7 linked regions of the Homo sapiens genome follow. The protein of the gene in region 1 purifies or fractionates together with the protein of each later gene. This does not show direct contact. Each region holds a gene or a part of one and is shown in the gene's direction. Other genes may lie near its edges.

The links.
Region 2: the proteins of POTEB3 (region 1) and AP1S2 purify together in Homo sapiens (co-immunoprecipitation; 2 studies listed by BioGRID and IntAct, with this or other methods). This does not show direct contact.
Region 3: the proteins of POTEB3 (region 1) and FAM83B purify together in Homo sapiens (co-immunoprecipitation; 2 studies listed by BioGRID and IntAct, with this or other methods). This does not show direct contact.
Region 4: the proteins of POTEB3 (region 1) and CKAP5 purify together in Homo sapiens (co-immunoprecipitation; 2 studies listed by BioGRID and IntAct, with this or other methods). This does not show direct contact.
Region 5: the proteins of POTEB3 (region 1) and FAM83D purify together in Homo sapiens (co-immunoprecipitation; 2 studies listed by BioGRID and IntAct, with this or other methods). This does not show direct contact.
Region 6: the proteins of POTEB3 (region 1) and NME8 purify together in Homo sapiens (co-immunoprecipitation; one large-scale study listed by IntAct). This does not show direct contact.
Region 7: the proteins of POTEB3 (region 1) and CUX1 purify together in Homo sapiens (affinity purification with mass spectrometry; one large-scale study listed by BioGRID and IntAct). This does not show direct contact.

The regions. Positions count from the first base shown.
Region 1 is NC_000015.10:21,437,700-21,441,966, reverse strand, and holds the start of POTEB3 (POTE ankyrin domain family member B3), read left to right. Parts: upstream 1-1,467; 5' UTR 1,468-1,955; coding exon 1,956-2,476; intron 2,477-4,267.
Region 2 is NC_000023.11:15,848,314-15,851,813, reverse strand, and holds part of AP1S2 (AP-1 complex subunit sigma-2), read left to right. Parts: intron 1-3,500. UniProt on the Homo sapiens protein: Subunit of clathrin-associated adaptor protein complex 1 that plays a role in protein sorting in the late-Golgi/trans-Golgi network (TGN) and/or endosomes.
Region 3 is NC_000006.12:54,845,624-54,849,570, forward strand, and holds the start of FAM83B (protein FAM83B), read left to right. Parts: upstream 1-1,147; 5' UTR 1,148-1,203; intron 1,204-3,945; exon of another isoform or gene 3,946-3,947. UniProt on the Homo sapiens protein: Probable proto-oncogene that functions in the epidermal growth factor receptor/EGFR signaling pathway. Activates both the EGFR itself and downstream RAS/MAPK and PI3K/AKT/TOR signaling cascades.
Region 4 is NC_000011.10:46,797,781-46,801,280, reverse strand, and holds part of CKAP5 (cytoskeleton-associated protein 5), read left to right. Parts: coding exon 1-81; intron 82-3,108; coding exon 3,109-3,198; intron 3,199-3,311; coding exon 3,312-3,476; intron 3,477-3,500. UniProt on the Homo sapiens protein: Binds to the plus end of microtubules and regulates microtubule dynamics and microtubule organization. Acts as a processive microtubule polymerase. Promotes cytoplasmic microtubule nucleation and elongation. Plays a major role in organizing spindle poles.
Region 5 is NC_000020.11:38,939,917-38,943,416, forward strand, and holds part of FAM83D (protein FAM83D), read left to right. Parts: intron 1-2,042; coding exon 2,043-2,210; intron 2,211-3,500.
Region 6 is NC_000007.14:37,847,377-37,851,396, forward strand, and holds the start of NME8 (thioredoxin domain-containing protein 3), read left to right. Parts: upstream 1-1,220; 5' UTR 1,221-1,352; intron 1,353-1,447; 5' UTR 1,448-1,680; intron 1,681-2,883; 5' UTR 2,884-2,890; coding exon 2,891-2,923; intron 2,924-3,001; coding exon 3,002-3,059; intron 3,060-3,252; coding exon 3,253-3,359; intron 3,360-4,020. UniProt on the Homo sapiens protein: Probably required during the final stages of sperm tail maturation in the testis and/or epididymis, where extensive disulfide bonding of fibrous sheath (FS) proteins occurs.
Region 7 is NC_000007.14:102,202,126-102,205,625, forward strand, and holds part of CUX1 (Homeobox protein cut-like 1), read left to right. Parts: coding exon 1-79; intron 80-2,265; coding exon 2,266-2,431; intron 2,432-2,988; coding exon 2,989-3,045; intron 3,046-3,500. UniProt on the Homo sapiens protein: May be involved in intra-Golgi retrograde transport.

The DNA.
Region 1 (4,267 bases):
AAGAAAAAAGGGATGTCATAAATTACCAGTTTCATGAATGCAATGGGCTAACATTAGCAGTAGAACTCAGCAATGTACACAAAGAATTACACAGCATGTCCCAGTGACGTTTACTCCAGTGACTGCACACCTAGACATTCATCCCACTGAAATAAAAACTTTTTTTTTGCACTTGCAATTGGCTTCCCCTCTGCTTTTGTTGGCAAGAGCAGGTCGGTGTCCCAGGCTTAGAATCCATTTTTCTCTCTCTCCGTCTGTCTCTCTGTCTCCGTCTCTGTCTTTGTCTCTGTCTCTCTCTCTCTCTCTTTCTTTTTTTGACAGAGTCTTGCTTTGTCACCCAGGTTGCAGTGATGCGATCTCGGGCTCACTGCAAGCTCCGCCTCCCAGGTTCACGCCATTCTCCTGCCTCCCGAGTAGCTGGGACTACAGGCGCCCACCACCATGCCCGCTAGTATTTTGTATTTTTAGTAGAGATGAGGTTTCACCGTGTTAGCCAGGATGGTCTTTATCTCCTGACCTTATGATCCGCCCGCCTCAGCCTCCCAAAGTGCTGGGATTACACGCGTGAGCCACAGTGCCCGGCCAGAATGCATTTTTCCTCCCACACCAAAGCACCTGCAGTATGGGTGAAGCAGCCTGGAGCCTGGCTGCATAAGCCTGCACAGCAGGAGGGTCCCAGCAGGAGGGTAGAGGTGCCACTGCCTGGGTCCAGCTCACAGGCTGCCAGGGAGGCTCCGATCTGGCTCCCTGGTGCTGGCAGTGTCCTGTTCCCAGGATCTGCACGTGGGGGTGCCTTCCTGCATCTCCCCATCAGTGGTAGGTGCTCCTCCCAGCCCCCTCTTGCAGGCCTGGAGACAGCGGCCTGCACCTCAACCCTACTGCATGCCAGTGAAGCGAAGCACCCCGGGCCAGAAGCCCCACAGCTGTTGGCCCTGGTTTGGACACCAGGCAGGGGGCACCACAGCAGGAGCTAGCAGCCCAGCCCCGATTCTGTGGCCCCGAGTGCCCCGTTGCTGATGGCCCTGTGTTCTGGGTGCGGACCAAGGAGGAGCAGGTGTGGAAGGCGCCTCAGGCAGGCCCTGGGCTCCGTGGGCGTCTTGTGCTCGGAGATTTTGAGGCCATTTGCATCCAGCTCCGCCAACCAGAGCTCTAAGCTGCAGCGGCGGCCACCCGCAACAGCGCCACCACTAGTGTCTTGGGGGCTTTCTTCAGAGGAGGCTGTCAGCATCCTCGAGTTCCAGGCGCTCTAGCCCCAGTCCTGCTTCAAGAGGCTTTTTCCCACCACAGGCTTCTCTCCTCAGTGGCCAGAAAGCTGGGCCAACTCCCATGAACTTTGCCAGTAACGCAAGGCTGTCACTGACATTTGTGGCGCCAAGACTTGCGCACGCGGATTGCACACATCGGCCACTTCCTGGACCACGTGCAATGACACGCGCACGCCTCACGCACACGCCGCATAACGTCTGAGGCGCGCGCCCCGCACGCGCGCCCCGCACGCGCATAACGGCTTGGCTTACCTGTAACGGGTACACTTCGCTTCGCGTTCCTCGCTTGGCCTTGCGTTCCTAGCTTGGCTTGGCTGTTAGTAGCTTTGCCTGGTGTTTCTTGCTTGGATTGGCGTTTCCTCCCTCGCATTCCTTTGCTGGACTTGACCTTTTCTCTGCTGGGTTTGGCATTCCCTTGACTGGGCTGGGTGTTTCCTTGGGAGGGGGGGCTTGGCCTTTCCTGGGGTGGGCGTGGGGTCCCCCTGGTGGGCGTGGGCTTTCCCCGGGTGGGTGTGGGTTTTCCCTGGGTGGGGTGGGCTGGGCTCCCTTGCTGGGCTTGGCAAGTTTTGGCTGGGATTGACCTTTCTCTTCAAACAGATTGGAAACCCAGGGTTTCCTGCTAGTTGGTGAAACTGGTTGGTAGACGCGATCTGTTCGCTACTACCGGCCTCCCCTGGCTGTTAAAAGCAGATGGTGGCTGAGGTTTGTTCAATGCCCGCTGCCTCTGCTGTGAAGAAGCCATTTGATCTCAGGAGCAAGATGGGCAAGTGGTGCCACCACCGCTTCCCCTGCTGCAGGGGGAGCGGCAAGAGCAACATGGGCACTTCTGGAGACCACGACGACTCCTTTATGAAGACGCTCAGGAGCAAGATGGGCAAGTGTTGCCACCACTGCTTCCCCTGCTGCAGGGGGAGCGGCACGAGCAATGTGGGCACTTCTGGAGACCATGACAACTCCTTTATGAAGACACTCAGGAGCAAGATGGGCAAGTGGTGCTGTCACTGCTTCCCCTGCTGCAGGGGGAGCGGCAAGAGCAACGTGGGCACTTGGGGAGACTACGACGACAGCGCCTTCATGGAGCCGAGGTACCACGTCCGTCGAGAAGATCTGGACAAGCTCCACAGAGCTGCCTGGTGGGGTAAAGTCCCCAGAAAGGATCTCATCGTCATGCTCAGGGACACTGACATGAACAAGAGGGACAAGCAAAAGAGGTAACCGGGCCTGGGATGGGAGGAGGCGGGACATGGGGGGATGATGGGGACATACCCTCCTGGCGCAGGGAGGGAGGAGCCAGGCTTTCTCTTCCTCCGCAGGCCCCACACCACCCTGGGTGTGGAAACCTCAGAGATGTCAGGGCCCAGGTCCCTTTATAAACAGCAACACAAAAACAAAACTTTAGCTGATTTCCAATCCAATTATAATTTCCCTTATAGAACACTAATAGACGGTTTTAAAGTGATTTAACTCGCAAAATTAAGTCGATGCAGCAGATTATTTTTAATGTACACATTTTAAAACAATGTTCTATACACTATAGAAAGGTGTATATTGAGAACTAAGTCCCATAATATATCAACTTCTGGGCTAAATATTTTTCAAATAAAATCCAATATGGATTTTATATCGATGTGTACCCTATGTAAACACGTTCTTTACTGAGTAACCTTAAAAGGAAACTGAAATGGGAAGTATGGTTCATATCTTTGAATAGGAAGGTTCGTTTTTCTTAAGATGTGAGCTTTTTCTGTGTTTATCACTTTTACATAAGCCAAATAAAAATAGCAAAGTCTTAGTGTCTTTAAATTGCACATGATGTATTTTATCATTGTGATAAATTGATTTTTTGTAACAGAATGGAAAAAGACTTGCTTTTCCAGATATCAAAATGTGCGTGTGTTATTTCCACAAATTGTTTACTAACAGCTGAAAAGACATAAGTGAACAGAACAGAATAGGAAATCCAGAAATACCCAAATATATGTAAGAATTTAGCACTTGATAATGGTGATGTTTCATATTGGTAAAACAAGGTGAATTATTCATAAATTAAATGCATGCTGTTTGGAGAAAACTACCTAGATTTTTATGTCACAAAAATAAGTTCCTGGAGTATAGATTAAAAATTTTAAAGATACAAAAGGAGAAAAGTACCAGAAGAAAACACAAATGCCTATTTATATGTGCAAATATTTATTTATTTTTCTGAGACAGACTCTCACTCCATAGCCCAGGCTGGAGTGCAGTGGTGCAATATCAGCTCACTACAACCTCTGGTTCCTGGTTCAAGTAATTCTTTGCCTCAGCCTACCAAGTAGCTGGGATTACAGGCACCCACCACCATGCCTGGCTAATTTTTTGTGTTCTTAATCAAGACGGGATTTCACCATCTTTGCCAGGCTGGTCTTGAACTCCTGTCCTTGTGATCCACCCACCTCAGCCTCCCAAAGTGCTGAGATTACAGTCATGAGCCACTGAAACCGGCATATATATGCAGATATAATAAAATAAGCTCAATTTAAAATTGGGCAAGGTACTTTTTTGCATGTCTACCAGTGACCTGTGTACATAGGAAAACATAGCATTCCTGCTAAGAGAAGGAATTTAAGTTAGAAGAGGAATGAAAGACTATTTTCTGTTTAAGTTAGAAGAGGAATGAAAGGCCAGCCATGGTGGCTCATGCCTGTAATCCCAGCACTTTGGGAGGCCAAGGCAGTTGGATCACGAGGTCAGGAGTTTGATACTAGCCTGGCCAGCATGGTGAAACCCATTTCTACTAAAAATACAAAGAATTAGCTGGGCATGGTGGCATGCACCTGTAATCCTAGCTACTCAGGAGGCTGAGGCAGGAGAATTGCTTGAACCAGGGAGATGGAGGTTGCAGTGAGCTGAGATTGCACCACTACACTCCAGCCTGGGTGATGGAGTGAGACTCCATCTCAAAAAAATAAATAAATAAAAATAAATAAATAAATATAAAGGAATGAAATACTGTTTTGTGTCCA
Region 2 (3,500 bases), on another chromosome or scaffold:
GTTTATTAACTTTTAAGTACCCTTGTTGCTATGGTGGGGGTGCAATTAAATATGACAGATAATTTTTCCAAGGACAGATTTTTTAAAAATTTGATGTTACAAAATGACTCATAGATTGGCTTTTAACACTAAAATTTTTTTAATGCTATACGTCTTTATTTTATAAATATCTGAAACCCTGAATACCCTAAAATAAATTTCTCAAGATTGTTCTAAGTAGGTTAAAAGAAATAAACTTTCTTCTTTTACAGAACATTTTTTGAGGGGACATTTACTTCATTCCCCATTTGTTTCTTTTTGAATAATTTGCTGAATTTAAGATAAGAGCATTTCTGCATATAAAAAGTTCTCTTGTGTGGGGAGTATACATGGAAGTAACAGTATGGGATACAATGAGGGTGGGAGAGAAGTCTGGTTTTCTTCTCAGCTTCCCTTTATTGCACTCCAAATATGGGTTGGATATTTTGTCAGGGAGATGGCTGGGAAGAAATGGAGATTACAAGACATAAGTTTCTTAAATACTGAGGACTCCTCTTTATTATTGAATGATCTTTGGTGATTTTGTATCTTTGGGTGATTTTGTATCCAGTGTTTCGTTTGGTCTTATTAAAGATTATAGAAAAGTCATATCATTTGAGAGGTGAGAGATGTTTTACAGTGATCTAGTCAGGTGATTTTGTTTTGTTTTGTTTTGTTTTAAGCTTTTTGCCCCATGGGTAGAACCTTAAATAAAATGAGTGGAAGTGAGGCTGCTCCTTGTGAAATCAGGAATGAGGATCCTGTATCCTGGCTCACTTGGCCTTTACCCCTCTGCACAGGAGACAGTTCTTGAGTTTGAAAACTGCCGTTGTTGATCAAACTTCAATTTTATAAAGAATGCAAATTTGGGAGAAGTGACTTGTCTAGGGCCATATGCCAGTTAGTGATTGACATGGGGCTGCAACTCAGATCTTAAGCTTAGAGGCAAAGATTTTAAACAGGGCTGGAAAAAGATCAGGTTTACATATCTTAAAAGATTGAACTGAGACAATGGATGAGGGCAGGAGGGGCTGAGACTGGCACCTGCAGGATCAGTAGGAGACTATGTGAGATCCTGAACCCAGGCGCTAGAAAGGAGGGCTGTCACTAAATAGCCATTATCAAATAGGTAGGTTTGATAAGACTTGGTCACCTCTAGAAGTGGGAAGAATATGGGAGGTCGAGGCAGGAGAATCGCTTGAGCCCAGGAGTTCAAGTCCAGCCCTGGCAACTTAGTGAGACCCCGCCGTCTCTACAATTAAAAAAAAAAAAAAAAATTAGCTGGGCGTGGTGGCATGCACCTGTATTCCTAGCTGCTCTGGAGGCTGAGGTGGGAGGATTGATTGTGCCTGGGAGTTCAAGCCTGCACTGAGCCCTGATTGGGCCACTGCACTCCAGCCTAGGTGACAGAGTGAGACCCTCAACGACAACAACAAAGCGGAGAGAGCAGCGAAGGAAAGGGAGGAGTGGGGTGATCTCCACATTTCTGGTTTGCTGATGGGGTACAAGGTGAGCTAGATAACTCGGCTTATTTTGGGGTGAGTTGATTTGGGGATGTCTATGTGACTTTCATTAAGAGAAGCCTGATTTTCTGGTGGGATGTGGTTGGTGTAAGTATGGAAGTCTGGGGAAAATAAGACAAAGTATTAGATCACCAGCATTCAAGTGGCAGGCAAAGGAGATGAAGAAGGGACCTTCAGAGTGGAATGAGAAATTTCACCAATGCCAGATGTTGCATAAAGTTCAATGAAAGTGAGGAAGGAATCTGGTAGATTTTACAGTGAGCATTTCATATAATGCCCTTTGCCAGAACATTTTCAGTGGAATAGTGGAGATAGAACTCTCGATGTAATGGGGCGAAGTGTGAAGAGGTGGAGAAATTTAAATAGCATGTGTAGACTATTTTGGGGAACTTTGCTGTGAAGGACAGGAGACGAGGTGGTAACCACTCATAGACATAGGAGTGGGGGACAAGGTTTTTAAAAAAGAAGGTGTGAGAGGCTTAAGCTTATTTCTAGATAGGGGAAGGAGTCCCCCGTGTGGAGGAGGAAAATACCAGCAAGGGATTCAATCCCAGGAATGGGCTGTTATGGGAAGAAAGGAAAGCACTGCTTGGTGTTCATGCACATGTCACTCAGTCTGTCCGTGTTGAGCCACTACTTTTTCTTTTGAAAGCTACAAAGGGTATCTAATCCAACTCTGATACTTATATCAAGCACCTTTAAATAAAAGGTGGACTTTAAAAAAAACAGCTTTATTGAGATATCAGTCATATACAAAAGGTGGAATTTATCAGTTCTTTCTCTATACGTTCCCCCTTCCATTTCATACTGAAAACCTCATCTACTCTACCACTTACGGACATATTTTTTGTTGGTATAAACAGGTGGTTTGTTTTCCCTACTGCTGGAAGCGAAGAGCTTTTTAAGCAGGAGAATTACTGCTTAGCGCCTGAGAAATTCTGGACTGGGACTTCTGCTGTTCATATCAGCAAGTGATTTTTGTTGTTTTTGTTAAATTATCTCATCTACATTCTTCATCCTGAGTATTTGGCATACAAATTCCCCCTTTTGAGAGGGGAATGATGGATAAGAATAATATTAGCTGAAAAGACAGACTGAAAATCTGGGGACTTAAGTTCTGTTCCCTTTGTAACGTTAGCTAGTTTTATGACTTTAAACAAGTCACTTTGTTTCCTTATCTCTAAATGCTCTTGAAGATCCCTTCAAGACAGAATACTGTGCTTTTTTGATTCCTGTTTTGTGTAGCATTTTGTGGAAGAGTCACTGGATTAAGGTCTTTTAAAATTAATTTAAAAACATATATATCTCCAAATTACTAGCTTGATAATTTGTTAAAGAATACTTACTGATTTTCTTTACTAACAAAAGAATTTTTAATGACATACCAGTGGGTATTGAGAACACTTCAGCTACATTCACCCACAGTCAGCTGATATTTAGCTGATATTTAGCTGACTGCGGAGAAGTCATGTGTTTTGAATATAAGAATAGGCACTTTCAGATGTTCTCTGAGTGCCAGTAATTAGAGTAAGCCTTAATCCACTGTGCTAAAAATAACCAAACATACCTTTCTTCTTACTAGTCTATTATTAATTTTACTTCAGATTTAGACTTACAAATAGGCACTAAGAGAACAAAATGAGCTCATTATTGATTTTTTTAAAACCATTTGGTCCTAAATATAGGAAGTACACTTCAGGTTCTCTTGGTAATCTTTTACTAAATCAGTATGGCATATTTTACTTCTCTTCAAAGCTCTTAAAATATTGTTTCGAGCACATTTTAATTTTTGCCAGGTATGGGATTACGTTAATGCAATTGCTGGCTATAGTTTTTAATGTAAAACTTGGGCTCTAGAGTCAAATTGCTGTTCCTAGGCAGGTTACTCAAACCTGGGTCTCTTATCAATGCAAATAATAATGGTATCTCATGGATACGGTTGTTGTGAGGATTAGAGTG
Region 3 (3,947 bases), on another chromosome or scaffold:
TCAGCACGTCAGTCAGGGATTCATCCAAACCTTAATGGCTTAGCATTTTCCTCAACTGTTTTATTTGGAGCAAAATCGCCACGAAAGTCATTTTTAAGGGTCAATTCAATTTTATGATAATTTATATATTATGCCAGACGCTTAAAATATGCCTATTACTACCCTAAATTCCATTCTTACAGTACTAGGCTGCATTTTAGACATTTGCTGCAAATGACTTTATCTTGAAGTCTACGTGATTACACAAATTATTATAAATACTCATGACAGATTTACTGAGGTGTAGGCAAGGAAATTAAAAAATAAATTTTATTAATTACTGTATTTTATGTTTAAATTATAGTGTCTCCACTTCCGTAACATTGCTCCGCAGTATCCCACCTAGAGGGACCTGCTTTCACGCACATCTCCCTATTTTAAACAATATCCTTTCATCCCAAATCTGTAACTAGGACAGTTGAGAGTCAGTACCAAAATCTTTGATGATATTTGAAATTCTTTTACATAAAAAAGTAAAGGCACAAGCACTTTTTCTTCTACTTTTCCACTCCCCACGTCCTCTCCAAGCCTAAAGACTCTTAGGCACTGAGAAGGAGTCTGCACTGCGGGATGCCCACTGGAATTACCTACTGTGGGCTGAATCCGCCCCACACTCTCGAAGGTGCTACAACCCTTGCTCTCACCCGCGGCCCCCAGGCCTCTCCTCCAGGCATTCTTGAGCCCAGGGAAAAGCGAGGACGGGACCACGGCCCCGCTCGGCCTAGATCCGCCTTCTTCCCAGGTGAGCGTCGCTGTCCTCCGGGATCGCTCCTCGCCCCAGACCAGGAGCAGGGTGTCGGGACTTGTAATTGCCCCGTAGCCCCGAGGGCGGGCAGGAAAGAAAGGCTTTTTCATACTCCGCTGGGAGAGAGCAGGGTGTTTGAGTTCAGACAGGTTCCGAGCGCTTTCTGGCTGTTCGGGGTTTGGCGTGCCACCACTTGGGACTTGTTGTAACCCGTCTCCACTCCCGCCCCCTCCAGCGCTGCACCTTGTCTCGGGGAGGCGCGGTTCGAGCCGGAATCAGCCTCCCTCCGCGGACCTGACGCTGGGCAGGTAACTCCCCTCCCCTCCCTGCCCGCGCCCAGGCGCTTGCTGCTTCCTGGGAGGCAAACCTTCGGCGGCCGGCGCTGTGCGGCGGGCGCGGTTGCGCGCGGCTTGGGGCAAGTAAGTGGGGTTTGGGCTCCCTTGCCCCGGACCTCGGCGGACGGGACCCCAGCGGGTGCAGGGTTGAGGTGCTTGGGGTACTGGGGGGGCCCGGGGCTTCACCCGCCCCTGGCCGGCGCGGCGGACGGGAGGGATAGGGGACTCTCCCTTGGGAGCGCAGGCGGGATTGGAAATTCCACAGGGTGTAAAGCTCAGTTGCTTCAGTCTTTTCTACGTTTCTTTCATTGTCGTGGGGGTTCGAGTGAGTTGAGAAGTTTGAAAAGTTGTCTCGGGCGGAGTCGGTTTGGGTCCCCAGAGGACTGGCGCCGCCCCTCGTGGAGGCTGCATTTGTTTCCTCTTTTCCAGTGTAGGAGTGCGCCGAGGACCCCGGGAGGGGAAGCGGGAGGAGAGACCGCTGGGAAAAGTCTCGTGGGAGGAAGTCCAGGGTGGAAGCAGAGGGCATGGGGGTGGGGGGTTCCGGGAAAAGGTGGGAGAGCTTAGGTCGCTGAGGGGCGTGGGTGTTCTTTAGATCCTGAGTGGGGAGCAGAACTTGAAAAGACAGTTTTTTCACACAACCTCTTAATTGTACAGGATCCCGTTTCTGAGTGCAGACTGGTAGCGACCTGTGTTTTTCATACTTGGGTCGGCCTGAGTCTGGGTCTGTGTGCCCTAGCAGCTCTCCAGGAGAGCCTGTACCTACCAAAGTTTGAGAACCACTGCTCTAGATCCTGGTGAGTGATCTAGAAGAGGAGAGTAGGCCTAGAGCAGATTGCTCCTGGAACGGGACTTGGAGACTTTTGGCCTATTCTGTGTGATATGTGGGGAGACTTACCTGTGTAAGGTTAATGGACAGGCAGAGAATGCCTGTGTTCATTGCAGGAGTCATAGGTATGTAAAGAGACAACAGCGCTTTCTTTATAGGAGGAGGCTGGGAGGTTATGGAAACACAGGTTAGCATGTTGTCTATGCTCGGAGCGGTGAAGTTATAGGGTCTCTCTGACCTAGAAGTGGAAATGAGAGCTCAGGCGGCCAGAACACTTAAGAAGAAGGTGTGCGGGTGGCAAGCAATTGAGGCTAGAATTTAATGCTCAACAGCTTATGTCCAAATTCCCAGTTACAAACATCTTGCTAGGTTACTGGCAGGCACCTCCCTTCTTTCCCTTTCTCATCCTAACAAGTGCAAGAGCCCCGAGGAAATCCATGACTGAGGCTGAATCATTGCTGACAAGCAACAGGAAGGGAGAGAGTGATGAAAGAGACTTAGAAGAGAAAACTGGGGTTTTTTGTTTTTTATTGGAGTGGGGGTGGGGGTGGCGGTGGGAGGCTCAAAATGATTGGAGAATGAGAATAATGTGAAACAGAATGATGGAAGGTTGGGAGTGCAGGTCTTTGTTGCGTTTGTTTCTCTCTGTCTTCCTATAGTTCCCAGAAAAGTAGAAGTCCCCACACCTTCCAATTGCAAATTCCACCCCCTTGCCTTTGGGGCTCAGGCACACGTGGGGTATACACCTATTTAGGGTGCTGGCTACACCCTCTAGAGCCTGCCTAAGGGGCTGGGTGGATCCTGCCTTTAAAGCTGGCAGGCTTTAGACCGCAGATGCTGAGAATTTATTGTGGGAAGCATTACCAGTTGAACAGTTGCTGAAAGAGATTGTATAGATGGAGACAAACCACACCTCTGGTGCTGACTCAGTGATGTCTTTTACGTTTATGCCCTTGAGTTTATGACGCTAACTGGCTAAACTTTTTTGGGATGAAGTAATTAATTTTATTAATCTTTCTATTTTATTTCCTCTACCGTCCACCGTTCTTTATAGGTTAAGGTGGAGGTTCATTCACTGAGTATTTTCTTGACCATGACTCACCTTGCAGCAACTAACCTACTTGTTTCCCATTTAATTACATTATACAATACTGAGTTGCCAAAATGTAATGTTATTATACTTTTAAGTGTCCAGAATCTTGGGGTGAAACTGTTATCCCATCAAAGCGGGACTCTTCTAATACATAAATCTGGTTGGAGGAGACCTTTTGAAAAGAGGCCACTTAGCTTAATTTAATGAATTATTGGTAAAATTTCAAGTTGTCCTTGTTTATCTAGTTAGGTAAGTTTGCACGTCTGTCCCTTTATAAGTTGCAAAATGTGAATGTCCCATGGATGTTTCACAATTCACCTTTTTAAACACAATGTTTTGTTCATTTTGAAATGTGCTTTTGTTCCTTTAATTTCTGATCTGGAGATGGAATGTATTTTAGAATTTTGTTGTTGAATTTATCATCTGAACATCAGAATACATCCGCTCCCCCATGGAAACAGAGTTCTAAATGATGGTTATTCACAGCCCAGCTTTAAGGATGCCGTAGATAAAAAGTTGTACAAATAGCACTTAAACTCCATCAAGAATCAAAGCCAACAACATTTCTCTGAGAAAATGTGTTAGAGCCTTCAGTGGGAGCTTCCTTCCCACTGAGGTGTGCCAATGGGCATGGGCACTGTCTAGAAGTATCCTGGCCCCTAAGGGTAGAGCAGGCTTCCCAAGGGGATTGGGAGGCTGAGTGCTGTGGGCTCCTGAGACAAGAGCTGGGGGAAATGGTAGGCTCCAGTGGAAAGGATATACGTGGAGGTGAGGTGGAGTGGGGGGCAAGTGGGCTGTATGCTGGGGAGGAGGGTGCACTAAGGAGGCAGGGGGCTAACATGTACAGAAGGTAGGGGTGGGTGATGGAGGGGGCAAAGGATGTTTTCAGGGGCTGTGATGCTGTAAGGA
Region 4 (3,500 bases), on another chromosome or scaffold:
ATGTTGGTGGCTTTGGCAGCAAAATGTCTTACTGGCCTGGCTGTTGGGCTAAGGAAGAAATTTGGACAATATGCAGGACATGTAAGTAACACTCCTTTTTAGATACAGATCAACAAAATTTATCAAAAATGGTAGGCCTAGTTTGCTGTTTGCTTTAAAACAACTCCTTGGCATAGATGTGTATATACTGTACAAAGTAAATTTCTCTCTGTTTTGTTAATATTCAGCATAGATATATCTTAGAAATTTCAGTAGATGTCAGTTGTAACAAAATTTATAGGCCTTATGTAGAAAGTCAGGCACTAGGCCTAAAGTACTTAGTTGAGTTTATTTATTTGCTTATTACTTATTTACTTACTAGTATCTTGCTTTGTTCTTACAACATTATACACATCATAACAAGATGAAACAAAACTTGTAACGACCAGGACCAGAATGAAAATGAGAGTCGGAAAGGCAATGTAAAACTATAAATGTAAAACTGTGAGGTTAATATATAAAATGTGTTTTACATTGTTTTCCTATTTTAATATATAATTTACTTACATATTTGAGACATTTTATATAGGTTACAATGTTATATATTTTATATAGGTTATCTCCGTTTTACTTATTCAAAGAAAATCTGACTGGAGACATTTGTTGACTTACTATTTGTATAAGTTTGTTTCCAATCAAATTTGGTAATAATTTTAATTAAGATGTTTTCTTTAACTGTGGCATCTGTCCTTTGGCCTCTAAATCCGGTCTGCATTACTAAGAATGGCTCAGCATCCTAAAAATTGACCTTATTGATCTTTAGAGTTTAGCTTGCTAGCCCCTTCATCATTTGATTCCCTAGACTGACTTAGGAGTTTCCTAATAGTCCCTAGTCATGTGTCCATTTTATATTGTGAAGCTAATACCTAGCCTCACATGAGCTATGGTATTTGGAGCTTGCTTACTCATAGCATTAAAAATAATCTCAGAGAACTTAACTGAAGAAAAAGAAGACACTACCAAATAAAAATAAATCATGACTGGCTTATTACTAGGGAAATAAAAATAAGGGTCTGTAAAACCCTTAGACATATACATCATAAATTGAAATAAAATTAAAATCTATTTTTATAGCAATCAATATTATATAATATCGATGTGTATATGCCATTTTGATCAATTTTATATTACTTAGGATATTTTACACTTTTATATTGGGAATAATTTTTCAAGATAAAAAACAATTTTTTCCTACACCACTTAAATATCAGTTCAGAGAATAATTTTAGTTTTTTTTTTTTGAGACAGGGTCTCACTTTGTCACCCAGGCTGGAGTGCAGTGGCACCATCTCAGTTCACTGCAGCCTTAACCTCCTAGGCGCAGGTGATCCTCCCACCTCAGTCTCCTGAGTAGCTGGGACTTCAGGCACACCCCACACCATGCTTGAGTACTTTTTGTATTTTTGGTAGAGATGGGGTTTTGCCACCTTGCCCAGGCTGGTCTCGAAATCCTGAGCTCAAGCTATCTGCCTGCCTCAGCCTCCCAAAGTGCTGGGATTACAGGCTTGAGCCACCACACCCGGCCTAAAATTCATTTTAATTTACCAAATTATGGTTGGATAATTAACTGGCTTTCCAGTTTGAGTTCTGATTCTGGCTTTGTTTCAGTTTGTTGTCCTGGTTAAAGAATGTCTCTATTGCTCTGTAGTTTGGGGTCTCCCCCACCTTAATACTGTAATATATGCGGTGTTTAGTATCAAGCATGTTACTGACTTGGCTTTATTTTCTTTAAATGTTTACAAACTTTTTGGCAATATTTATAAAAGTGAATGTTAGCTTTATAGACATTAAAATATCTTGATTTTCAAGTTTATAACTAGTATTAAAAAGTCTTGTATTTTTCCATGGGAACCATAGTCCTTGAACTATACCAAGTAGTCTATAACCACTTCTGTGAAATCTTGAAAACAATTATTTCTTGTTTTTGGATGCCATTGAGCTTTGCTGTGTCCTTTGGACCTTAGAAATTTTCTTCCCCAGCCTGGGCAACATGGAGAAACCCCCGTCTCGACAAAAAATAAAATAAAAAATTATATTTACAGGGAAATGGTCAAGAAATTAAGAATTAAAAAAAAAAATAGCAGGTGTGGTGACATATACCTGAGGCCTACCTACTCGGGAGGCTGAGATGAGAGGATTACTTGAGCCCAGGAGGCCGAGGCTTCAGTGAGCCATGTTCATCCCACTGCACTCCCACGTGGGTGACAGAGCAGAGGCGGCAAATAGGTTGAGAAGCACTGCCATAGTGGGAGAGAATGAGAATTCTTCATTGTTCCGGCATAAGATACGATGTCCTTCATGAAAGGAAATGACTTTTTATTCCACTTAAATGTTTGCTTTATTGGTTTGTTTTGGTGGAGACAAGGTGGTTTTTTAGAAAGTAAGTTTTATTGAGATAAAACTTGCATACTATAAAATTTACCCTCTTAAAGTGATTTTAGAATATTCACAATGTTACATAACCATCAGCACTATCTAATTCCAGAACATCTTCATCACCCCAAAAAGAAACCCCTTGCCCATTAACAGTCTCTCCCCATGCTGCTCCCTGCCCTTGACTCTAGCAACCACTAATCTACTTTTTTGTCTCTGGATTTAACATTTCATGTAAATGGAGTCATACAATACATGGTCTTTGTGACTGCTTTTTTTTTTTTTTTGGAAGACAGGGTCTTGCTGTGTTGCCCAGGCTACAATACAGTGATGCAGTCGTAGCTCACTGCAGCTTTGACCTCCTGGGTTCAAGTAATCCTCCCACCTCAGCCTCCCAAGTAGCTGGGATCATAGGCACATACCACCACACCTGGCTAATTTTTTTTTGTTTGTTTTAGTAGAGACAAGATCTCACTCTGTTGCCCAGGCTGGTCTTGAACTCCTTGCCTCAAGCAACCCACCTGCCTCAGCCTCCCAAAGTGCTGGGATTACAGGCATGAGTCACTGTGCCCAGCCTGTGACTGGCTTTTTTTTTAACTTAGCATACTATTTTTAAGGTTCAGCCATGTTCTAGGATATATCAATATATCATTCCTCTTTGTTGCTGAATAATGTGCTAGCCATTCACTTTTACAGGTTGTGCCAACCATCTTGGAGAAATTCAAAGAGAAGAAACCTCAAGTGGTACAAGCCCTGCAGGAGGCAATTGATGCAATCTTCCTTACTGTAAGTTGACAGCATGAGTTTGTAGTTTTATCTGAAGTAAAGTTTGTAAATATAATATTTTGATTGTTCTTTACAATTGAAAAAAGCTCATTAACCACATTTTCTTTCTAAAGACCACACTACAGAACATCAGTGAGGATGTTTTAGCAGTAATGGATAATAAAAATCCAACCATCAAGCAGCAGACATCTCTTTTTATTGCAAGAAGTTTCCGCCACTGCACTGCTTCTACCCTGCCAAAGAGCTTGCTAAAGCCCTTTTGTGCTGCACTACTTAAGGTACAGACTCTCTTTGAAGTTGGG
Region 5 (3,500 bases), on another chromosome or scaffold:
TCTTCCTGAGGAGGAAACTGAGGCTCAGAGAGATTAAGCCACTTGCCCAGGGTCACACAGCTGGTAGGTGGTAGAGCTGGGTTCTATGCCCAGAACTTTTGCCTTTAATTCCTGTTGTATGACCCGAATGAGTGGGATGAATAGAACTGTCAAAATAGGATGTGTAAAGCCAGTGGAGGATGTAAACTTCAGAGGATGCCACAAATTCAGAAAGAACGCTTCTCATTTTTTAAATCACTGTGTTCAGTGGGTTTCAGCCATGCCCTTTACCAAGAATAGCCCACAGCTTAGACCATCATTAAAAGGGGTGGGGTGGGAAAGGCAGCAGGAGAGTAACTGGTCTTCTCAACCCCCTCACAGCAATGACTTCCCAGGAACTGGTGTTTCAGGGTCTCACATCCTAGTAGACCAGGCCCTGGAGTGTTGGAGAAAGACAGCCAAATTGCCTTTTTGCCTCTTCATTCCTTCTTTAATCCCCCAAATCCTTAAGGAGTCATGACTGTCATATACTGTCCTAAGTCCTCTGGGACCACAGAAATGACTCAATCCCATTCAAGAGCCTTTGCTGCAGGAGAAGGAGTGAAACCCATAAATGAATAATCCTAACTTTCAGAAAAAGAGTTAATGTGATTCTGAGAGACAGGCTTTTACTGTGGAAATGGGGAGGAAGGAGAAACCCTTATATCTCCAGACTACAGAAGAGCCCCCAAGCCTCGGCTTCCTTAGTTAACACCCCCAACTTCTGACTCAGTTTGTCAGGACCTGTTTCTAAGCCTGGAGGTTTGGACACCCCCACTGCCCTGCCAGGAGTTTGCTGAGGACCTTGGTTTTAAGCCTGCAAAAGGTGTGATTAGAGGCATTGTGGCAGGAGCAGCCTGTCTTTAAAAGAGCGAGGAAAGCTAGGCGGTGTCTCCCTGTGTTGAACTGTCTGGACGGCTCCAGCTCTGGACTGGTAAAGTGAATAAACGAGCAGATACTAAGGGATCCTTTGTACCTTGCACTTTATGTAACATAGTCATTTAGTTCTCGATACAACCCTATTTTGCAGCTAAGGAAACAGACATTTGAAACAGCTGTAATTTGCCCAGGAATGCATGGCTAAAAGGTAGCTCTTAATTGTAGTCTGATGCTAGGTGTGGAAAATCACTTGGGAGGCATGAATGGAGCCATGTTGTTGGGGAGAAGAAAGGCCTGTTCTGAGCTTAAGGGCAGAATCCTTAGGAAATATTTCCCTGTTCTTTGCTGTGGGCTTGCACTATGGACGGATACCAAAGAACTGCAGAGAGAACCTTTTACTGAGGAGAGGCCAGTGCAGTGGAAGTCATTTGGTTAGAACCTGCCCAACAGACAGCTGATCAGGCCTGGCTGGTAGAAAGAACAGAATGTTAACAAATATGGTATGCAGTGTTAGGGAGGCAGAAGAAGGGAGAATCCATGGGCCTGCTTCGATTGCTTTCGAGTCATGAGTTGGTGGTGAATGGGACAGGCCTTAAAAAAGTCAGAGATTATGATTCAAAACCAGACAATAATTTAAAAAATAGATTTCGAGAATGCTACCCTCCAGAAGGGCCCTCAGAGAGAATCTGAGGTTTTATTTACTTGTTTAACGGACAGCAAACTGAAGCCTGGTGGGGAAAGCAACAAGCCAAAGATGACAGTGTGTTACCCACAGAACCAGACAGCTTGCTGATCTGAATAAGCCTGTAAGACAGGAGTTTAGTGGAGGAATAGAAGGTGAATGGAGCAGGTTCATAAGAGAGCAAGGCAGTGGATTGATCTGTATTTTTGAGAAACCTCCCAGCATGGAGTTGGGAGTGTTAGCTAGGCCAAGTCAAGATTTCTAGGACACGGGGCCCAAGTGTCTTTGGAGATGCAAAAGAGTCCATGGTGAGGGGGGCACCAACACTGCAGAAGGGGGAGGGAAGGATAACTGTTGGATAGGGATCATTTCCCAGTTCTGAGTGGAGTCCAGAGTCCAGAGAGCGTGCTGTAAGGTGGTGTCCTATAAGCTTATCATGTGCTCTTCCCTGTTTCACCTGTAGGTGATTGCAGTGGTCATGGACGTGTTCACAGACATCGACATCTTCAGAGACCTGCAAGAAATATGCAGGAAACAGGGAGTTGCTGTGTATATCCTTCTGGACCAGGCTCTCCTCTCTCAATTTCTGGATATGTGCATGGATCTGAAAGTTCATCCTGAACAGGAAAAGGTTTGTGGTACACTATATCCAGTTTCACCATAGTCAACAAATATGACCAAGCATCCATTATCTACAAGCTGGCTGGTGGCGGTATCCCTGTTTACAAGGAAGGGACTGAGGCTGTGAGCAAAGTCATTTGCCTGGTCTTACAGAAAACAAACAGTACCTGTGACCTGGCAATTCTCCTAGGTGTCTACCCAAGAGAAATGAAAATATGGGCCCCCACAAAAATTTATGTGTGAGTTTTATAGAAGCATTATTCATAAAGCCAAAGAGTGGAAACAATCCAATGCCAATCAACTGATAAGTGGATAAATGATATGTTGTCTATTCATACAATAGCATACTATTCACCTATAAAAAGGAATGAAGTGCTGATACATGCTACAGCATGGATGAACCTGCAAACGTGCTAAGTGAAGGAAACCGGTCACAAAAGACCACATATGATATGATTCCATTAAGTCAGAATAGGGAAATCTATAGAGACATTGATTAGTGGTTGCCTAGGGCTGGGGAGTTGGGGGAAGGACGGGATTATTGCTAAAGGGTACTTTATTTTAGCACTTTCTTTTTAAACTGATGAGAATGTCCTAAAATTGACTAACGGTGATGATGGTTGCATATATCTGTGGATATACTAAAAACTACAGAATTTGTGTTAATTGTATGATCTGTGAATTAGATCTCAGTTAAGCTCTTTAAAAGAAATGTTAGGATTCAAGACCTTGGCCTCTCCCCTGTACTGTCCTGCCTCTTAATAGAGCCTGGACCAGCTCCCTTGTTGAAGGCCTGAAGGCCACCCTGGAAGTTGCTGCTTTTGACAGTAGCTCCAGGAGGCTGCCCTTTTAATCACAGCAACCAGTATTTTTTGAGCCCCCACTCTGTCTTTGGCACTGCTCCATGCTTTTTTTTTTTTTTTCCTGAGATAGAGTCTCACTCTGTTGCCCAGGCTGGAGTACAGTGGCCCAATCTAGGCTCACTGCAACATCCCTCTCCCAGGTTCAAGAGATTATCCTGCCTCAGCCTCCCAGTTAGCTGGGATTACAGGTGCGTACCACCACACCTGGCTAATTTTTGTATTTTTAGTACAGATGGGGTTTTGCCATGTTGTCCAGGCTGGTCTTGAACTCCTACCTCAGATGATCTGCCTGCCTCGGCCTCCCAAAGTGCTGGGATTACAGGCATGAGGCCCCATGCCCAGCCTGCTCTGTGCTTTTAACAAATGTTATGTAACTGAATCCTCAAAGCAGCCCCTATCAGGTAAGTGGCACCTGTGTTTTAGACCAGGAAATAGTG
Region 6 (4,020 bases), on another chromosome or scaffold:
AGACAGAGGAGGAGGAGGAGAAGGAGGGGAAGAGGAAGGAGAAGAGGAAGGAGAAGAGGAAGGAGAAGTGGAAGGAGAAGAGGAAGGAGAAGGAGGAGGAGGAGAAGAAGAGGAAGAGGAAGAGGAAGAAGAAGAAAGAAGAAGAAGAAAGAAGAAGAAGAAGGAGAAAGAAGAAGGAGAAGGAGAAGGAGATGGAGGAGACGGAGGAGGAGGAGAAGGAGGGGAAGAGGAAGGAGAAGAGGAAGGAGAAGGAGAAGGAGAAGAAGAAGAAGAAGAAGGAGATGAAGGAGATGGAGGAGACGGAGGAGACGGAGGAGGAGGAGGAGAAGGAGGGGAAGGGGAAGGAGAAGAGGAAGGAGAAGTGGAAGGAGAAGAGGAAGGAGAAGAGGAAGGAGAAGGAGAAGGAGGAGGAGAAGAAGAGGAAGAGGAAGAAGAAGAAGAAAGAAGGAGAAGAAGAAGAAGAGGAAGAAGAAGAAGAAAGAAGAGGAAGAAGAAGAAAGAAGAGGAAGAGGAAGAGGAAGAAGAGGAAGAGGAAGAAGAAGAGGAAGAAGAAGAAGAGGAAGAGGAGGAAGAAGAGGAGGAGGAGGAGGAGGAAGAGGAGGAAGAGGAGGAGGAGGAGGAAGAGGGAGAGGAAGAAGAGGAAGAGGAAGAGGAAGAAGAAGAGAAAGAAGAAGAAGAAAAAGAAGAAGGAAGAAGAAGAAAGAAGAAGAAGAAAAGAAGAAGAAAAGAAGAAGAAGAAGAAAAGAAGAAGAAAAGAAGAAGGAAGACGAAGAAGAAGAGGAAGAGGAAGAGAGAAGAAAGAAGAAGAAGAAGAAGAAGAAGAGAAGAAGAAGAAGAAGAAGAAGAAGAAGAAGAAGAAGAAGAAGAAGGAAGAAGAAGAAGAAGAAGAAGAAGAAGAAGAAGAAGAACAAGAAGAAGAAGAAGAAGAAGAAGAAGAAGAAGAAGAAGAAGAAGAAGAAGAAGAAGAAGAAGAAGAACAAGAAGAACAAGAAGAACCAAACCAGGGTAGATGAAGACAAAGTTAAAAAGAAAGAAAAGGCTGGTGCTGGCAGAGAGCCTTCTGCTCCGATTTGAGGTGTATGCATTTTATGCTGTAAAGCGTGGCCAGTCACAGGAGGATTCAAAGGCGAGGAGAGATATGATCAAATCTGCACTTGGGAAAGCGCACCTTGGTGCGCATCTGGGGATAGAGGAACGTAGGGATGGGAGGATGGGGGATGGGAGTTTGGGGATGAGGCAGCTGAAGAACAGAGTCTTGTGATGGTGGAACCAGGACTTCGTTGTTCCTTCATTGTGTGGGCAGAAGAGGTGGAGGATTTTAGGCGCCACCTGGTCTTGTCCCCACTGCCCAGGTATAGCTGCTGTCTGGAGCAGGGGCCTCGAGACGCCGCTCAAGTCTCACGGGCAGATGGGTTGGACAAAACATTGCCCCCCTTCTTCTTCCCAGACAGGCAGGGAATCCCTCTTCTTCCTTTTGCTGAATCAGCTGGAGAAGAAAGCCCAGCAGGAGGCCTGCTAGCCTCAGCCTCGGGCCCTACCAGGGTCCTAGGTACTGGAATGGAACTTCGCCGAGGTCACCGCTCAAACGGCCACAACGAGGGAGCCGATTTAGATCCTCTGGGCCTGTTCCTTCCTTTTCTTTAAACGTCCCAGTCTAGCTTAGAGGAGGACCTGTTTTGTGTAAGGCTTGCCGGAGCAACCAGCACCTTTCCTGGAATACAGTCTTGTTTGTGGCTTTTCCTTTGTTGTACGCTAGCGTGCACTATCGCCCGCACGCTGACTGACCCCTGTTCTACACCGCCCCTGATACCACTGAATAGGGAGTTTGAGAAGTTTATGTCGTGCCCCAGAAAACACTAGTGGCCTTGTTCTCAAGATTAAATATCCTTAGAGCAGCCAGATCTGAAGAGGGACCCCAGAAAGATCCACGGGCATGTTCATTTGTTTGCAATTGATAATATAGGAAACACTTTCTAATATTTCAGGAAAACAAAACCTTTAAAAAAACCAGACGACGTGTAACTCCTAACATTCTTACCTTGCTTCAGGACTGTTGGGAGGATAAGATAGTGTGGCAGCTATAAGCATTTAGCATAGAGCCTAGCATACAATAGTCCTTCCATGACATTAGCTTCTCTCTCCCCAGCAAAGATGACACTGCATAATCCAATGTACAGTGGGGAAATTTTTCACTAGTACATTAAGATGTTATTTGCAGTTAGAAAGAATGAATACTGTAATCCCAGCACTCTGGGAGGCTGAGGTGGGAGGATCACGGGTCAGGAGGTTGAGACCATCCTGGTTAACACGGTGAAATTCTGTATCTACTAAAAATACAAAAAAAATTAGCCCGCCGTGGTGGCGGGTGCCTGTAGTCACAGGTACTCTGGAGGCTGAGGCAGGAGAATCGCTTGAACCCAGGAGACGGAGGTTGCAGTGAGCCCAGATTGTGCCACTGCACTCCAGTCTGGCAACAGAGTGAGACTATGTCTCAAAAAAAAAAAAAAAAAAAAAGAACAATGAATAAGACCTAGTATTTGCTAGCACAAACAGGTGACTGCAGTCAAAAAATCTAAATTGTACATTTTAAAATAACTAAAAGAGTATAATTGGATTGTTTGTAACACAAAGGATAAATGCTTGAGGTGATGGATACCCCATTTACCCTGATGTGATTATTATGCATGGCATGCCTGTATCAAAATATCTCAGATTTAAATACACAAATATTTAAGTACATAAATACAGAGATACATAAATATATACACCTACTATGTACCCACAAAAATTAAAAATTGTTTTAAAAGATGTTATTTGCATGCATAAAGAAAATGTTATTTAAATTTCCTACTTAAAAATTTTTCTTTCTTTTTCCTATGATAGTAGATAAATGGCAAGCAAAAAACGAGAAGTCCAGTTACAGGTGGGTCTGACATATCAACAATTCTTTATCTGGTGCACTAGTGCTTGAATACCTTTTACAGTGCCTTCCACTTTGCAGACAGTCATCAATAATCAAAGCCTGTGGGATGAGATGTTGCAGAACAAAGGCTTAACAGGTATAAGGACTCCCCGGCTGTCTGGCCACCTGGGGTTTGACCCGGAGCTCCTCCTGGCACCCTGTCCCTCTAGAGTCCCCACTTTGACCAAGAAATCCTGCAGTGCCTTTGCCCTGGCCATGGCTCCAGATTGGGATAACTGCTATCCTAGATTGGTAGACTTTGTTATTTCATAAATATCATCATCTTCTAGTGATTGATGTTTACCAAGCCTGGTGTGGACCTTGCAGAGCAATGCAACCTTTATTCAGAAAATTGAAAAATGAACTGAACGAAGACGAAATTCTGCATTTTGCTGTCGTAAGAATTTTGTTTTCATTAAACCACTGTTTTCACATTATATTAAGTTTTTAAGTATCCTCTAATACTTTAAGTATTGTCTTAATTTAAACAACCTGTCAGTTCTTCAAAATAGATAGTCTTTACTTGGCAGTTTTACTATATATTTAATTCTACTAGATCTGAGAATGAATATGATTTTTATCCCATTCTTATAACGTCGAGGCTATTTACCATGACTGTGAAAGTCAGAAAAGTGTAATAATGGACACATCTATTGTTCTGTTTCCTTTCACCTGACCACATGTTCAGTGTGTGTCCTTTAGAATAAGGGCTACAAAAGCTGTTTACTGGGTATCATTGAGTAGTGCCCTGGCATTAACCCAGTTACCATATTTTCCAGTGGCAATGATTTTTCCTCATTTATTTGCTACCTACTTGCAATAAGGGATTAAAATATTATAGCCAAACACATTTTACTGAATTGTACTGTTTTTTCAATCTATTCACATAAAATGATCAACTAATTAGAATTTCGTTGTCCAACATGGTAGCTACTAGGCATAAGTGACTATGGAGCTCTTGCAATGTAGCTGGTCCAACTGAGGAGCTCAATTTTTAATTTTAATGAATTTAAATCTGGATTTTCAAACTGATACTCCATTGAGTTATTGTAAAACTT
Region 7 (3,500 bases), on another chromosome or scaffold:
GGACACCATCGAGCTCACCCGGCAGGTTAAGGAAAAGCTGGCCAAGAACGGCATCTGCCAGAGAATCTTCGGGGAGAAGGTAAGGGATCTGCTCTGGGGGCTTTGGTTCTCCCATCTCTTCTCCTTGCTGAGGACCAAGTATCTATCCCGCAGCCTGTGACCCTCACCCATTTCAATTCACCCAAGAGCAGAGCGTAAGGCATCCTCTGCTCCCAGACTTCCAAGGTGCGGCTGGTGAACATTGCAGCCCCGATCCCATTTGCCGAGCCCCGACTGCAGCCAGGTTCTAGGCTCAGCCTTTCACCTGCATGCTGCCCTTTCGACCCCTCACTTGGCGCTGGGAAGTGGATGGTAAAATCCCCAATTGACAGGGAAGGACACCAAGGCTTGGGGACGTTAACTACTTGCCCCAAGCTGACCGGCAGCCGAGTCCACATCCAGCTTTTGCTGCCAAGGGGAGCTGAGAGGCACCCCTGCAGGCTTCCTTGGCCAAAAAAAATCCCATCTGATCACACAGAGGGACCACCAGTACGCAGAGAGCCAAAAGGGACTTACTAGAAAAAGCTGCAGAGAGCATTATTGTTCCTTTCTGTGTAACTCTTGGATATTGTTCAGTCAGAGAGGTCAAGCAACCTGCCCGGGGACACACAGCTTGGGGATGGCCCAAGCAGGGTGGCCCGTGTTTCCCTATCATCCTTCCCTGGCTCAGGAAAGTGTAATCGTGCATGGACGAGCTTCTAGGCCTTTCTGTTCTTGGCACTTTCCTGGTCACTGAGATTCAGGAGAATGAGGGTTAACCGTGCCTGCCAAATCTAAAATAAACATCATGTCCTAGTATCATTTTATTTATTTATTTTTTGAGATGGCGTCTCACTCTGTCGCCCATGCTAGAGTGCAGTGACGCTATCTCGGCTCACTGCAACCTCTGCCTCCTGGGTTCAAGCGATTCTCCTGCTTCAGCCTCCTGAGTAGCTGGGATTACGAGTGCCCACCACCACACCCAGCTAATTTTTCTATTTTTAGTCGAGTCAGGGTTTCACCATGTTGGCCAGGCTGGTCTCCTGACCTCAAGTGATCTGCCTGCCTTGGCCTCCCAACCCCCTACCATTTTAGATTAAATAACGGAGTGCTGAATAGAAGGAGAAGCACCCCTCTCCCCTAAAAGGCACCTTCCTGAGGGAGCACGTGGCTGGATCAGCAGGGGACAAATCCCACCCCCTCCCCTGCCAAGCCAGGGTCCCTGCATGGCGCCGTCCCCGCACTCCCCACCCCGCCTTCCACTCAGTGTTTGCCGTATGCTGTGCTGTGAATCCCGGTGGTGTCCGATGGCGAACTTTGCCCTGATTTTGCAAAAGGTGAAGGGGGGCGACTAGAAATGAGGATGAGTATTTCAAGTCCCTTGAGATTTCTAGTTCAGTGTTGTAAAAATACCATTTGAGAACATTGAAATAGACATTCGTGCTCATGCCTTAAATTTAGCAGAGACTTAATAACATTGAACTTGTTTGGCCCGTGAGTGCAGTTTTATTCTGGAACTTGAGAACTTTTCAAAAGAGTGATCGGATGCAGCCCCTAAATATCCCAGGGCGGCATCTGTGTCCTGTGGGGGGTGTTTGTGCCTATACATATGTATGGCCATATGGGAGCGTCAGAAAACTCGGGTGTGTACACGCAACTCGGCAATCATCTGCGGCGGAATGTCACTCCCAGGCCGGCTCCCCAGGTCCCACCAGCTCACCTCTGGGCCCCCACCTTTGATCAGGATGTGGTCAGAACAAGCAGACCTTTCTAAATGCTGGCCTGGCTCAGCGTTTGCAGAGGACACCAGCTTCGCCAGTCCCACCGGCACCCACTGCCCCACCTCTGGAGGGATCTTGTCCCTGGAACCTTAGCCTTTCCCGGTGCCACCAAGTGAAGAGCAAGGTGCTTGTACACACCTCCTCCGCGGGGTGTCAGGGTGACAGCCCTGCCATCTTGGCAGGATCAAGACCCTGGGATGAGACCCTCTTCCCTCCCTGGGAGCTGAGAGCTGTGGCTGTAACCATGGCTCACCCGAAAGTCCCCCTGTGCCGGGGTCTCAGCCACCGTTGATCTTTAAATGCATATTCCCTGCCCACAAGCTGTCACCGCCACCAGGCCGTGGTTCTGTGCTCAGAAGTCAGCCCTAGACGCGCCCTCTGCGTGGTGGGTGTGCATTGCAGCAGCATCTGTGGTGTCATGCTAATAGCCAGGCACTGATGGCCTGTGTGTTCGGTGCCACTCCAGGTGCTGGGCCTGTCCCAGGGCAGCGTCAGCGACATGCTGTCCCGACCGAAGCCATGGAGCAAGCTGACGCAGAAAGGCCGAGAACCCTTCATCCGGATGCAGCTCTGGCTGAACGGCGAGCTAGGCCAGGGTGTTCTACCCGTCCAGGGCCAGCAGCAAGGGCCAGGTAATGGGGGTCCTGCCACAGGAGAGGGGCTGCCCCCCCATAGCAAGGACCTGGTCACAGCAGCCCCACCTGGGCTATGCAGAGAGGGAGGAGGGAACTCCGCCCCAGGAGGTGGCCAACCACACTCCCCACCGTGGGCTGGTGCTGGGGGACAGAACCGTCCCCTTCCTCCACAACCTGTTGCCGTGGGACTGACTTCAGTGTTTAGGAGAGATCATGCCTGTCTAATTTTATAAGCAGCAGAAAATGAGTTACCAATTTAAAAAATGCTGTTTATACATAAATACAGGTAAAAGTCAAGTAGCTGAATCAGGGAGTCAGGAAAGAAAGTCAGCCAAAGGTACAAAAGTGGAAGATGTCACAGGCGAAACCTTTCACCTGCTCCCGGCCCGGGGGCCTGGCCTTGCAACAGCAGCGCCTCCCCGGCCCGTGGGTCCCCATGCCCGCCCCTCCCCAGGAGGAATGGGAAGCCTCCCCGGGCCTTGCCACATTCAGTTAGGAAGCTTTAAGCCCTGGGCCGCGTTCCTTCCTTTAATTATAACCTTTTTCTACTTTAGTCCTCCACTCCGTGACATCGCTCCAGGACCCGCTGCAGCAGGGCTGTGTGAGCTCAGGTAAGCAGCCAGTTTCTGTTGCTTTTGCATGAAATGTCTCACTGCCTTTTCTGTTGTCCCGTGCTGTGGTCTGTCCCGGCGAGACTCCGAGGGACCGCACATTCTGGATTTGGGGAGCTGAAATATGGCATCCTATCTGCAAACGGGGTCCCTCTCTGTGTCAGTTTCTAATGGAGAGCGAGCTGACAGTGCATGGAGGGACTCTGCCAAGATTTGCACGCCCACTGTCATCCTTTGTCGGCCCAGAGCCTTGTGTTCAGGGCTGGGGTCTAAGTCGGAGACAGATTCCCCACTCAGGGGGCTTACCGTCTGATAGGAAGGGATAAAGCACGGGCACACGTCCCTCTCCTGGTGGGGTCATGTCGGGGGACTTCTTATCTAACCGGAAGACATCCAGGCAGCCTCTGAGCAAGAAAATGGGGAGCTTTGAGCTTGAGCAGTGGGAAAGGTAGGGT